Linked DNA regions of Homo sapiens. The protein of the gene in region 1 purifies or fractionates together with the protein of each later gene. This does not show direct contact. Each region holds a gene or a part of one and is shown in the gene's direction. Other genes may lie near its edges. The genes, in order: RAB3D, ATXN7 and RASGRP1.

The links.
Region 2: the proteins of RAB3D (region 1) and ATXN7 purify together in Homo sapiens (affinity purification with mass spectrometry; one large-scale study listed by BioGRID and IntAct). This does not show direct contact.
Region 3: the proteins of RAB3D (region 1) and RASGRP1 purify together in Homo sapiens (affinity purification with mass spectrometry; one large-scale study listed by BioGRID and IntAct). This does not show direct contact.

The regions. Positions count from the first base shown.
Region 1 is NC_000019.10:11,333,119-11,336,770, reverse strand, and holds part of RAB3D (ras-related protein Rab-3D), read left to right. Parts: intron 1-987; coding exon 988-1,106; intron 1,107-1,199; coding exon 1,200-1,324; intron 1,325-3,652. UniProt on the Homo sapiens protein: The small GTPases Rab are key regulators of intracellular membrane trafficking, from the formation of transport vesicles to their fusion with membranes.
Region 2 is NC_000003.12:63,982,302-63,985,953, forward strand, and holds part of ATXN7 (ataxin-7), read left to right. Parts: coding exon 1-144; intron 145-637; coding exon 638-720; intron 721-3,652. UniProt on the Homo sapiens protein: Acts as a component of the SAGA (aka STAGA) transcription coactivator-HAT complex. Mediates the interaction of SAGA complex with the CRX and is involved in CRX-dependent gene activation.
Region 3 is NC_000015.10:38,509,202-38,512,853, reverse strand, and holds part of RASGRP1 (RAS guanyl-releasing protein 1), read left to right. Parts: coding exon 1-71; intron 72-1,133; coding exon 1,134-1,250; intron 1,251-1,755; exon of another isoform or gene 1,756-2,760; intron 2,761-3,652. UniProt on the Homo sapiens protein: Functions as a calcium- and diacylglycerol (DAG)-regulated nucleotide exchange factor specifically activating Ras through the exchange of bound GDP for GTP. Activates the Erk/MAP kinase cascade.

The DNA.
Region 1 (3,652 bases):
TCTCGAACTCCTGACCTCGTGATCCGCCCACCTCGGCCTCCCAAAGCGCTGGGATTACAGGCATGAGCCACTGTAATACTGTGCCTGGCGGGAAACAGTATTATTCCTGGGGGTCTGATTGCGGAGATGATACTAACCTAAGACATGTTTGAAGTACTTGTGACACTAGCGTGGTGGCTTATGCCTGTAATCCCAACACTTTGGGAGGCTGAGGTGGAGCATCACTTGAGCCCAGCGGTTCCAGACCAGCCTGGACAACATAGCGAGATCTCATCTCTAAAAAAAACTTTAAACATTAGCCCAGCATGGTAGCTCCCGCCTGTAGTCTCAGCTATTCAGGAGGCTGAGGCAAGAGGATTGCTTGAGCCCAGGAGTTCGAGGCTGCAGTGAGCTATGATTGCACCGCTGCATTCCATCATGGGTGACAGGGCAAGACCCCATCTATTAAAAAAAGAAAGAAAGAAAAAAGAAAGGTCCCAGGTGCTGGTGACCAACAGGGAAGAGTTTTGGGTACCATCTTAGAGGGGACCCTGGGACCCCCATTGGACCGACCTGGTCTGCAGAGTCACACCTAGCTCCCTCTCCCAACTTAGCCGCTGGTAACAATCATCGTGGTAGCAAGAGTACCAAGGTGTCCTGTCAGGATGGTACCATCTGGCCCAGTTGGTTCTTAGAGACAAGGTCAAAGGGGCTCATAAGTCTGTGAGAGGCCACTGACCCCTGAGACTTGGAACCCCTCAAGGGCAAGCCCAAGTCTCTCCCTCATCAGACTGGGGAGATCCCTTGGTAATGAATCCATGCCTCCCCCATCAGACTGGGGTTGTGAGGGCAGGATCTGTGTATTCTCCATCAGACCAGAGGTTGTACAAGCAAGTCTGTGTCTCCCCCGTAAGGCTGGGGCTATGAGTACAGGGCAGTGCCCCTCTAAGACAGGGGTGGACTGGGAAACAGGTAGTTCCCAGCCAACTGCCACTGCCATTTGTCCAGGACACAGCGGGCCAGGAGCGCTACCGCACCATCACCACGGCCTACTACCGGGGAGCCATGGGCTTCCTGCTCATGTATGACATCGCCAATCAGGAATCCTTTGCCGCTGTGCAGGACTGGTGAGTGCTTGCTGATCATGGACCCCTGATCTTTGCCCTCTCCTCTGACCCCTAACCCCCCCGGCTCATGGCTCACCACTGGTAACTCTGCAGGGCCACGCAAATCAAGACCTACTCCTGGGACAACGCCCAGGTCATCCTGGTGGGGAACAAGTGTGACCTGGAGGACGAACGTGTTGTGCCTGCTGAGGATGGCCGGAGGCTCGCCGACGACCTTGGTTAGTGCCCAGCCTGGGCCACAGGCCCTGGTCTCCCAGAACCAAACCCTCATCCCCATCCTCTGATTCAGGGTCCAACCCAGTCACTGATCCTTTGAGGATCTGCCCAGGAAGATACCCATGTGTATGCCACATGTCCCGTCTAATTGCAGGGGATCCACGCGCAGGAACTCCCACTGCCCCACTGCCTATCCCCTGGGAACCCAGCAAAACCATTTCTGGAAATTGATCCTAGAGATATCCTCACCCATGTGGGATATGGTGTGTGGAGTGTAGTAGTAGTATTAGTAGGAGTGAAACCTACAGATCCCCCCCAGGTGTCTCACAGTTGGAGAACCAAGTGGACATAAAGTATATTCACATGGTGGAATACTATGCAGCCATGGAAAAGGATGGGGATGTTCTTTATTTTTTTATTTTTTATTTTTTTGAGACGGAGTCTCGCTCTGTCGCCCAGGCTGAAGTGCAGTGGCGCGATCTCGGCTCACTGCAAGCTCCGCTTCCCAGGTTTATTTTATTTTTTTGAGTTGGAGTCTCACTCTGTCACCCAGACTGGAGTGCAGTGGTGCCGTATTGGCTCACTGCAGCCTCCACCTCCCAGGTTCAAGCAATTCTCCTGCTTCAGCCTCCCAAGTAGCTGGTACTACTGGCGCGTGCCACATGCCCAGCTAATTTTTTATATTTTTAGTAAAGATGGGGTTTCACCATGTTAGCCAGGATGGTCTCCATCTCCTGACCTCGTGATCTGCCCGCCTTGGCCTCCCAAAGTGCTGGGATTACAAGCGTGAGGCACCATGCCTGGCCTTTTTTTTTAATTTTGCGTGGAGATAGGGTCTCGCTATGTTTCCCAGGCTGGCCTCGAACTCCTGACCTTAAGTGATCCTCCCTCCTCAGCCTCCCAAAGTGCTAGGATTGCAGGCATGAGCCACCACACCAGCCCAAGGGGATGTTCTTTATGGTTTGTTTTTGTTTTTGTTTGAGATGGAGTCTCCCTCTGTTGCCCAGGCTAGAGTGCAGTGGTGCGATCTTGGCTCACTGCAACCTCTACCTCCTGCATTCAAGTGATTCTCCTTCCTCAGCCTCCTGAGTATCCAGGATTACAGGTGTGCGCAGCATGCCTGACTCATTTTTGTATTTTCAGTAGAGATGGGGTTTTGCCATGTTGGCCAGGCTGGTCTTGAACCCCTGACAGGTGATCCACCTGCCTCAGCCTCCCGAAGTGTTGGGATTACAGGCGTGAGCCACCGTGCCTGGCTGTTTTGTTCTAGCAAAATAGTGGATACGACTGCTTTCTTTAGTCCAGGAGTCAGCAAACCTTTTCTTAAAGGGCCAGATAGTAAATATTTTTGGCCATACAGTCTCTATGGCAACTACCCAACTCTGCATGACAGCAGCCACAGACAATGCATAAATGAATGGGTGTGACTGTTTGCCAATAAAACTTTATTTGTGGCCGGGCGTGGTGGCTCATGCCTGAAATCCCAGCACTTTGGGAGGCTGAGACAGGCAGATCACCTGAGGCCAGGAGTTCTAGACCAGCCTGGCCAACATGGCAAAACCCCGTCTCTACTAAAAATGCACAAAAATTAGCCGGGCATGGTGACAGACGCCTGTAATCCCAGCTACTTGGGAGGCTGAGGCAGAAGAATCACTTGAACCTGAGAGGTGGAGGCTGCAGTGAGCCGATATCACGCCACTGCACTCCAGCCTGGGCAATGGGGGGAGACTCTGTCTCAAAAGAAAAAAAAAAAAAGGAAAGAAAGAAACTGATGCTTGCAATCAGTTTTTAACCCCAGCTTTCCCATAAGCCCCATCCAAGCCAGCACCCTATGTGCAAAATTCAGAAGGCACAGGAAGAGACTAAGGCAATAACCCACTCCCCACCTGCAGTTCTGGTCTCCCAGCTTCTCTGATTCTTGTATCTCTTTCCAGAAATATGCTGAGCACCCACAGGCATTGACAACACATTGGCTACTTTTTTGTTTTACACAGATGTTCCCTACTGTATATACCCTTTCCTGCACTTTGAACTTTTCTACTAAATAATATATCCTAGAAATATTTCTCTGCCGGGCGCAGTGGCTCACGCTTGTAATCCCAGCACTTTGGGAGGCCGAAGAGGGCGGATCATGAGGTCAGGAGATCAAGAACATCCTGGCTAACACTGTGAAACTCCATCTCTACTAAAAATACAAAAAAATTAGCCAGGCGTGGTGGTGGGCGCCGGTAGTCCCAGCTTCTCGGGAGGCTGAGGCAAGAGAATGGTGTGAACCCGGGAGGCGGAACTTGCAGTGAGCCAAGATCACGCCACTACACTCCAGCCTGGGT
Region 2 (3,652 bases), on another chromosome or scaffold:
TTAACTGCCCCTCAATACCAAAGCCAACCTTGCCTTCACCTGGACAGATTCTGAATGGCAAAGGGCTTCCTGCACCGCCCACTCTGGAAAAGAAACCTGAAGACAATTCCAATAATAGGAAATTTTTAAATAAGAGATTATCAGGTAACTTCAAATTTTCTTTCTTCATAATGCTTCTCTATATATTAAATGGGCATTCGTGGGGAGCAAATCAACTGCAATCTAGAATTCCTATTTTTAAAACTGGTCAACTTCAGCTTTAGGAGGAAGTTCCTTAGTTAATATGTTTGTTCTTTTCACTCTTGGGTTTTAAAGAGCATGAGTGTGTGTGTGTGTGTGTGTGTGTGTGTGTGTGTGTCATGTAAAAGTAGCTTTCTAGTGGTGTATTTCTGAAGGAAGTAATACAGACTTAAACAATATCTTTTCTACCATCTGATGGCAGTAGTCACCCCCTGTCTTAGTGATGTTGCTGCTTTGTTGCAGCACTCACACGTTGTATATTTTTTATTTTATTGATAATGTGGCTTTTATTCCAGCTATAATTTATCTAACTGTTGATTTCTTCTATTTTCTTGCTTAAAAAATACATGGAGGAGAGTTTGTCAGGCCACATGTAATGCCTGTGTTCTTTTGACAGAAAGAGAGTTTGATCCTGACATCCACTGTGGGGTTATTGATCTCGACACCAAGAAGCCCTGCACCCGGTCTTTGACATGCAAGGTAGGTGGACTCCTGAAAGTCAAGTCGACCATCCTGATAAACATGGGTGACTGGGATGTACCACACTACTCCCACAGTCTCTCTAACCCAGAGAAGATGCTCTGTGGATTGTTGTGAATTGTGTAGGTGAAGGAATAACTTGGTTCTGTTGAAGAAAGCCTCAGATTGACAAAATGTGAAGTGCGTTGTTATAAATTATAATCTTGACAGAGGTTTTGTTTCTAATGAGCAGTGTTGTATCCACAGGAATAGTGTTCTCTCCCAGTCTGTTATTTTTAAAAACTTTTAATATTTCCATATAGGCTACCCTTGACTGTGCTTTAAATTATACTGGCTTAAAGCAAGTGCAGAAATTTCCCTTGCGTGTGTATGAACATTTAAAAAATGTGTCACCCATGGTCTTAAATTTTAAAGAACCACTTTTTAAAAAATCTGTGATTTTGAAATATCCCTGTTTTCTAGTTTAAAAAAAAAATACTGCAAGCCAGGCATGCCTGTAAGTCCCAGCTAGTGGGGAGGCTGAGGCAGAAGGATTGCTTGAGCCTAGGAGTTTGAGTCCAGCCTGGAGAACATTACGAGACCCATCTCTTTTAAGAGAAAAAAAAAACTAGATAAAATATATTAATAATTTATATACAAGCTAAGAAAATGTAATGGTCTTCCTTTTTGCTCTGGGGTCTTCCTTCTTTTAAAATGCCAGTATGCTAATAAGGTATATTTGCTGAAAAGTGTGGGTTATTGATGTGGGGTGGCTTCAGGTCATCAGTGAACACCTCTACATAAATGAGCTTGTATGTTGATGTGCATTTCTCTGGAGGGTGTCCCCAGCTACCCCCCAGATAGGTTCAAGAAGCATTCAGAGTCACTGCTTTGAAGTATGTAATTTTAAAACCTTAGAGGGAGGAAGTAAAAATGATAAAAGTTAGCATTTTCTTCTAAAAATTAATAAAATTGTTAGTGTTTTACTTTAAATTTTATTAAAGTGTATTTGAATAAAGGACTTCAGGCCCTGTCCCATGCCCCAGCCAGTGGAGGCATGTTACAGTCTTCTGGAGTGGGAAATTTTTAAGTGGTTCTTACTTTAAGCTTCTAATTTAATTTTAGTATATAGATTTTGTCTTACAACAGTGGTTCAGAACCTTTTTGGGGAAAAGGGTTGGTCAAGAGTACCTTTAAATATCTCATTTTTAAAAAAAAAAAACCACGGTCCATCTTCCGAGAATAAAATAGTGCATACACATACACATTCTGAATTTTTCTATCTTGGATTAATGGACACCCCCACCCCAAGCCCATCCTTGGATTTCTAGGTTAAAAACTCTCATAAAACAAACTGCTTTTTTTTTGTATAGGGTACTAATTGGACACACAGTGGTGTAGTGGTGGTGGTGTATGAAGATAGCCACCTGAGTTCTGTAGAATTATGTCAGTTTCAGCTGTCCCTAAGAGAATGTGTGAAAGCATGCCTCAGCCCTGTCCACATCATGATCACAACTTGCCATTCTCCTTCTGCGCTCTTCCTGCCTACCTGACTCTCAGTAACATGGATTTCTCAGTAATACAGTACCTGTGGGCAATGAGGTTTGCTTTTTTCAAACCCAAGATGTTCTTTTTCAGTCATTTACAAAGCGTGGCAGGGAACCACACCTTTAAGTGTGCAAGACAGTATTGTTGACTGTGAAAGAATATTATACAGCAGATGTCTAGAACTTGTTCATCTTGCTATAACTGAAACTTTATGCTCATTGATTAGTAACTCCTTATTTCGCTCTCCCTTCAGCCGCTGGCAGCCACCACTCTAGTTGTTGATTCTGTGAGTTTGATTATAGATCTCATATAAGTGGAATCATGCGGTGTTTAGTCATTATGTGACTGGGTTATTTATCTTAGTATAATGTCTTCAAGCTTACCTCATACTTGTTGTAGCATATTGCAGAATTTCCTTCTTTTTAAGGGCTGAATAGTATTCCAGTGTATGTATATACTATGTTGTCTTCATCCAGTCACCTGTTGACAGACATTTATATTGTTTCTACATCTTGTCTATTATAAATAATACTTCAGTGAACATAGGAGTTCTAATAGCTCTTTGAGATTCTGATTTCAGTTATTTTGGATAACTACCCAGAAGTGAGGTTGCCAAAAGTTTTTTTTCAACTCAAAATCTTCAAGGAGCTTGACTGGCATTCTTCCTGTGCCTTTATTGCTAGGTGGAGTGACTTTGAATGGGTCTGCATTTTTCTCACATCTTCCTTTTCAAATGATATATGCTCCCCTTGTCGTCCTTCTTTAAGGGTGTCATTACTCTCCGTGGCATTGGGCTAAGCCTGTCATTGCATTAATAAGTCTTGAGACCCAGCTTGTCATGAGATCAGCATAGAACTGGCAGAAAATGCAGCATCCACCAGGCCTGCCCTTTTACAGGATGACTTGACTTTTTTTCATTGTTTTGTCAGTTCTTTTCCTTTTCCTTGCCTTCACGTTGGTCTGAATCTATTAAGCTTGGTAGGGCTAAACATGCCTGCATGTCCCTACCCTGAGTGTTTCCCAAGTTGCTGCCAGGTCTCTTCTGTCTTAGACTTAGAACGTTATCTGTTCTCTTCACCGTCAGGGGATTTGCTGCTGTTCATTCCCATTACTCATTCTCTGTTGTCTGTCTCCCATCCTCACTGCCCCTCCTCACTTCTTCATCTGTCTAATATCCCGTCGAAAGTCCTCTGTGCCTTCCACGCGGAGAGATTTGTGACTCCTGTAGCCTTTGTCCATTCACTCATTGTAGAACTTTTTATTACGTACATCTGTGAGCACAGGCCTCACTCTTTCTAGGTCGCAGGGAATAAAGGGTTTAGCACAATAACCACGTGTTCCCTATGCTTGTGGTGCTTACAGTCTAATGAAAGAGATGGAGAGTATTAATCACCAAAATAACTGT
Region 3 (3,652 bases), on another chromosome or scaffold:
TGATGGTTCTCAGCCGCCCCACGCCGCAGCTCCGAGCAGAAGTCTTCATCAAGTTCATCCAGGTGGCTCAGGTGAATAACTGGTTTAAGACATTTGGCTTGGGCTATAAGGTAAACTTTCTATCCCCTTTTCCTCCAGCTTAGTCTATTAATTAGAGCTGTTTTTTCCCTCCTGAACCATGGCGAGGGGGTGGAGAGGTTTGTGTGCCTTCAACCAGATCTAGATATGGTGACTTGTCTCTTCTTCCATACAAGGACAGTGTGGAGGGGAGGGGGCCATACAGGCCATATCAGGGGTCAGGATCCAGTTTTAGATCTGTTTAGACCTTTAACATTTTTCAAAAGATGCTTACCAGCCTACATTATTTTCCCGAGTCTGGCCCACATGGCAAAGGAAAGGGCAATTCTAAGATTTACTGGAGCTGGACCATCCTGGATTGTCTTAGGTCTTTAAGCCCATGCAGTGCTGAATGGCTGCATTTAATGTTTGAGGGGCATTTTATAAGAGGAAAACAAGTACTATGAACCCATATTTGAAGTTCCCCAGAGATTCTAGCTTCTCTGTCCCAGTTACTGTCCTATATAGGCACTGGCATTGCATGGGAAAATAAGACAAAGTCCTTACCCTCAAAAATAAAAGTCTGGTAAATTTGGAATAAATAAAAGATTACACTTAATAATATCTTTCTCCAACTCTGGATGGTCTAGACCAGTGTTTCTCAAAGTCAACAGCTCTGACTTTGGATCACCTGCTCTGATATTAACTAAAGGTATATTAAAAGTACAGATCTCCAAGCCTAACCCCAGATCCAGGCAATCAGAATGTCTGGGTTAGGTCCAGAAACCATTGTGTTAAACAAATACTTGAGGTGATTCTAAGAAAGCACTGATCTAGAAGGTGGTCCACAGATCAGCAACAACAAAAGGAGAGAGATGTAATGCCTCCCAGATGTGGAATCCACCAGTCTGAATAAAGCAGAAGGGGAGACATGGACAGGAAATTGCAATGCCTCGTAACTAGTCTTTAACCAGCGTAAGGGAGACTCACGGCACAGAGACAAGAGGCAGCCTCTAAGCTCCCCATATAACTGACATGTACAGTGACTCTGCTGTCATCTGTCTTCTGTGTCACAGAAGCTCCACCAACTACAGAACTTCAATACACTGATGGCTGTGATAGGTGGGCTGTGTCACAGCTCAATCTCGAGGCTCAAGGAGACAAGTTCGCATGTCCCACATGAAATCAATAAGGTCAGTGCTACTGTCTTCTCTGGGGCCCTTAGCAGCATTCTCAAGATGTGTGCCAACATTTTCTCCTTGGTGGGCAGCCCAGAGAGCATTTCCAACCACACCATCCCTTGTCAACCAGGCTAAGTGGCAGGGAGGCAAACCTTAAGGAAATCCATAGGATGGAGAAGTCACATTTTTTAGAGTAACTGTGATTTTGTCTGGCCTCAGACAGTGTCACTGCAAACATTCCTGCTGGACCAGTTGAAACAATGTGTGCCTCTTCCCATGTTCATAGGCCATGGAATATTCAGTTACCATCTTTGACACTGATTCCCTCGCTCCAGCTCCTTGCTCTAAAATGTGTTCTCAAAAGGAATTGTGGTTCGGTTGACCATAGGTCAGTTTGCACATTGAGTGTAGTTATATAGTGATATATTAAAAACTTAGCTATCCAGAACCCTTGAAGAATGACATTCCGGATAGTTGAATTTTACCAGATAATTGGATATGAGTTCTTCAGATACCATTTTGTAATACATAATGTTTTATTAATGAATATTTTTCTTAAATGTCCTGTACATTTTCCTACATTATTAGATTTTACAGAATATACTTTTATCTTTTATGACATAGGGCTGTTTTGCTTGTTTCTCTTTTTTATAGAAACAGGGTCTTCCTCTGTCATCAAGGCTGGAGCACAGGCTGGCACGATCATAGCTCACTGCAGTCTCAAACTCCTGGGCTCAAGCAATCCTCCCACCTCAGCCTACCAAGTAGCTAGGACCATGGGTGCACACCATTATGCCCAGCTATTTTTTAAAATTTTTGTAGAGATAAGGGTCTCCCTATGTTGTCCAGACTGGTCTCCAACTCTTGGCCTCAAGCGATCCTCCCATCTCGGCCTCCTAAAGTATTGGAATTACAGGCATGAGCCACTGAGTCCAGCTGGAGCTGTTGTTATAAATATAAACCACTGTAATATACCGAGGATATAAATGTATGGCATGGGTTAGATAATGACTGCTCTTTGAGCACTTTCATGTAAGAGGACCTTACTATACTCAAGCCCCAATCCTTCCAAACTAGCATGGAGAGGAACTCTCTTTTTAGGGAGAGATACCTAAGCTCATTACCCCATCTGTTTTTCCCAGGTGTTCAGCTCCCTTTTGGGGAGTCTTTTATTATCTCTGTTATCACAATGCTGGGCCTCTGGGGAGGCCCCCCACTTCCCAGTGGTCTGATCAAAAGGGCATCATCTTTAGTCACCTCTTCATTCCTTAACGGTTCTGCTGAAACCAGGTGGAACAGTTGAAAAGATTGCCCACATCTCAGAGGTGACAGAGAGAAATAGTCACAGAGATTAAGAAGCCTTCATGTCATTTAGCTTATAAGAGAGAGCTTGCTCCTCTTCAGCTTGGGGTCCCCCCACAGCAGTGCTTCCTGTCGGTAGCTACTTGACCCTCAGGGTGGTCTGCATAGTGAATTAGTAAGTCCAGGGTTGAAGCAAAAGTCCCCAAGTTGTTGATTTCACCTTCGGAGGGGAATAAAAATATCTTTATCATTTTTGCTGTTACACTCTTGTCTTGTGAGCCCCTTCCATGCCTAGGGCTCACCTGCACCATTGGTAGAGGTTTATGAAGAAGAAGCTCTCTTGCCATCTCCCAGTGATTTGAAGGGGTCTGACTCCAAGAACTCCAAGTTCTTCATTGTGGAGAAATGGTACTTCGTAGGCCACAATTTTATTAAGTTTGGGCACAGTGTCTAAAAGGGTTACAGTAGTCCCCCTTATCTGAGGTTTTGTCTCCTGTAGTTTCAGTTATCTGAGGTCAACTGCAGTCCAAAAAAAATTTAATGGAAAATCCCAGAAATAATTCATAAATTTTATTATTTATTTATTGATTGAGACAGTCTCACTCTGTCACCCAGGCTGGAGTGCAGTGGCTCAGTCTCAGCTCACTGGAATCTCCGCCTCCCAGGTTCAAGTAATCCTCCTGCCTCAGGCTCCCAAGTAGCTGGGACTACAGGCGTGTGCCACCACGCCGGGTTAATTTTGTATTTTTAGTAGAGACGGGGTTTCACCATGTTAGCCAGGCTGGTCTTGAACTTTGGACCTCAGGTGATCCGTCCACCTCGGTCTCCCAAAGTGCTGGGATTACAGGCATGAACCACCACGCCTGGCCAATTCATAAGTTTTAAAATGCATGCTGTGCTGAGTAGCATGATGAAATCTTAAGCCATCCCATTCCATTCTTTCTGGGACTCCTTCATATCAGTCACTAAGTAGCCGTCTTGGTCATCAGATTGACTGTCATGGTATTGCAGTGCTTGTGTTCAAGTAACTCTCACTTTGTTTAATAATGGCCTCACAGTGCAAGAGTAATGATGTTGGCAATTTGGATATGCCAAAGAGCAGCCCTAAAGTG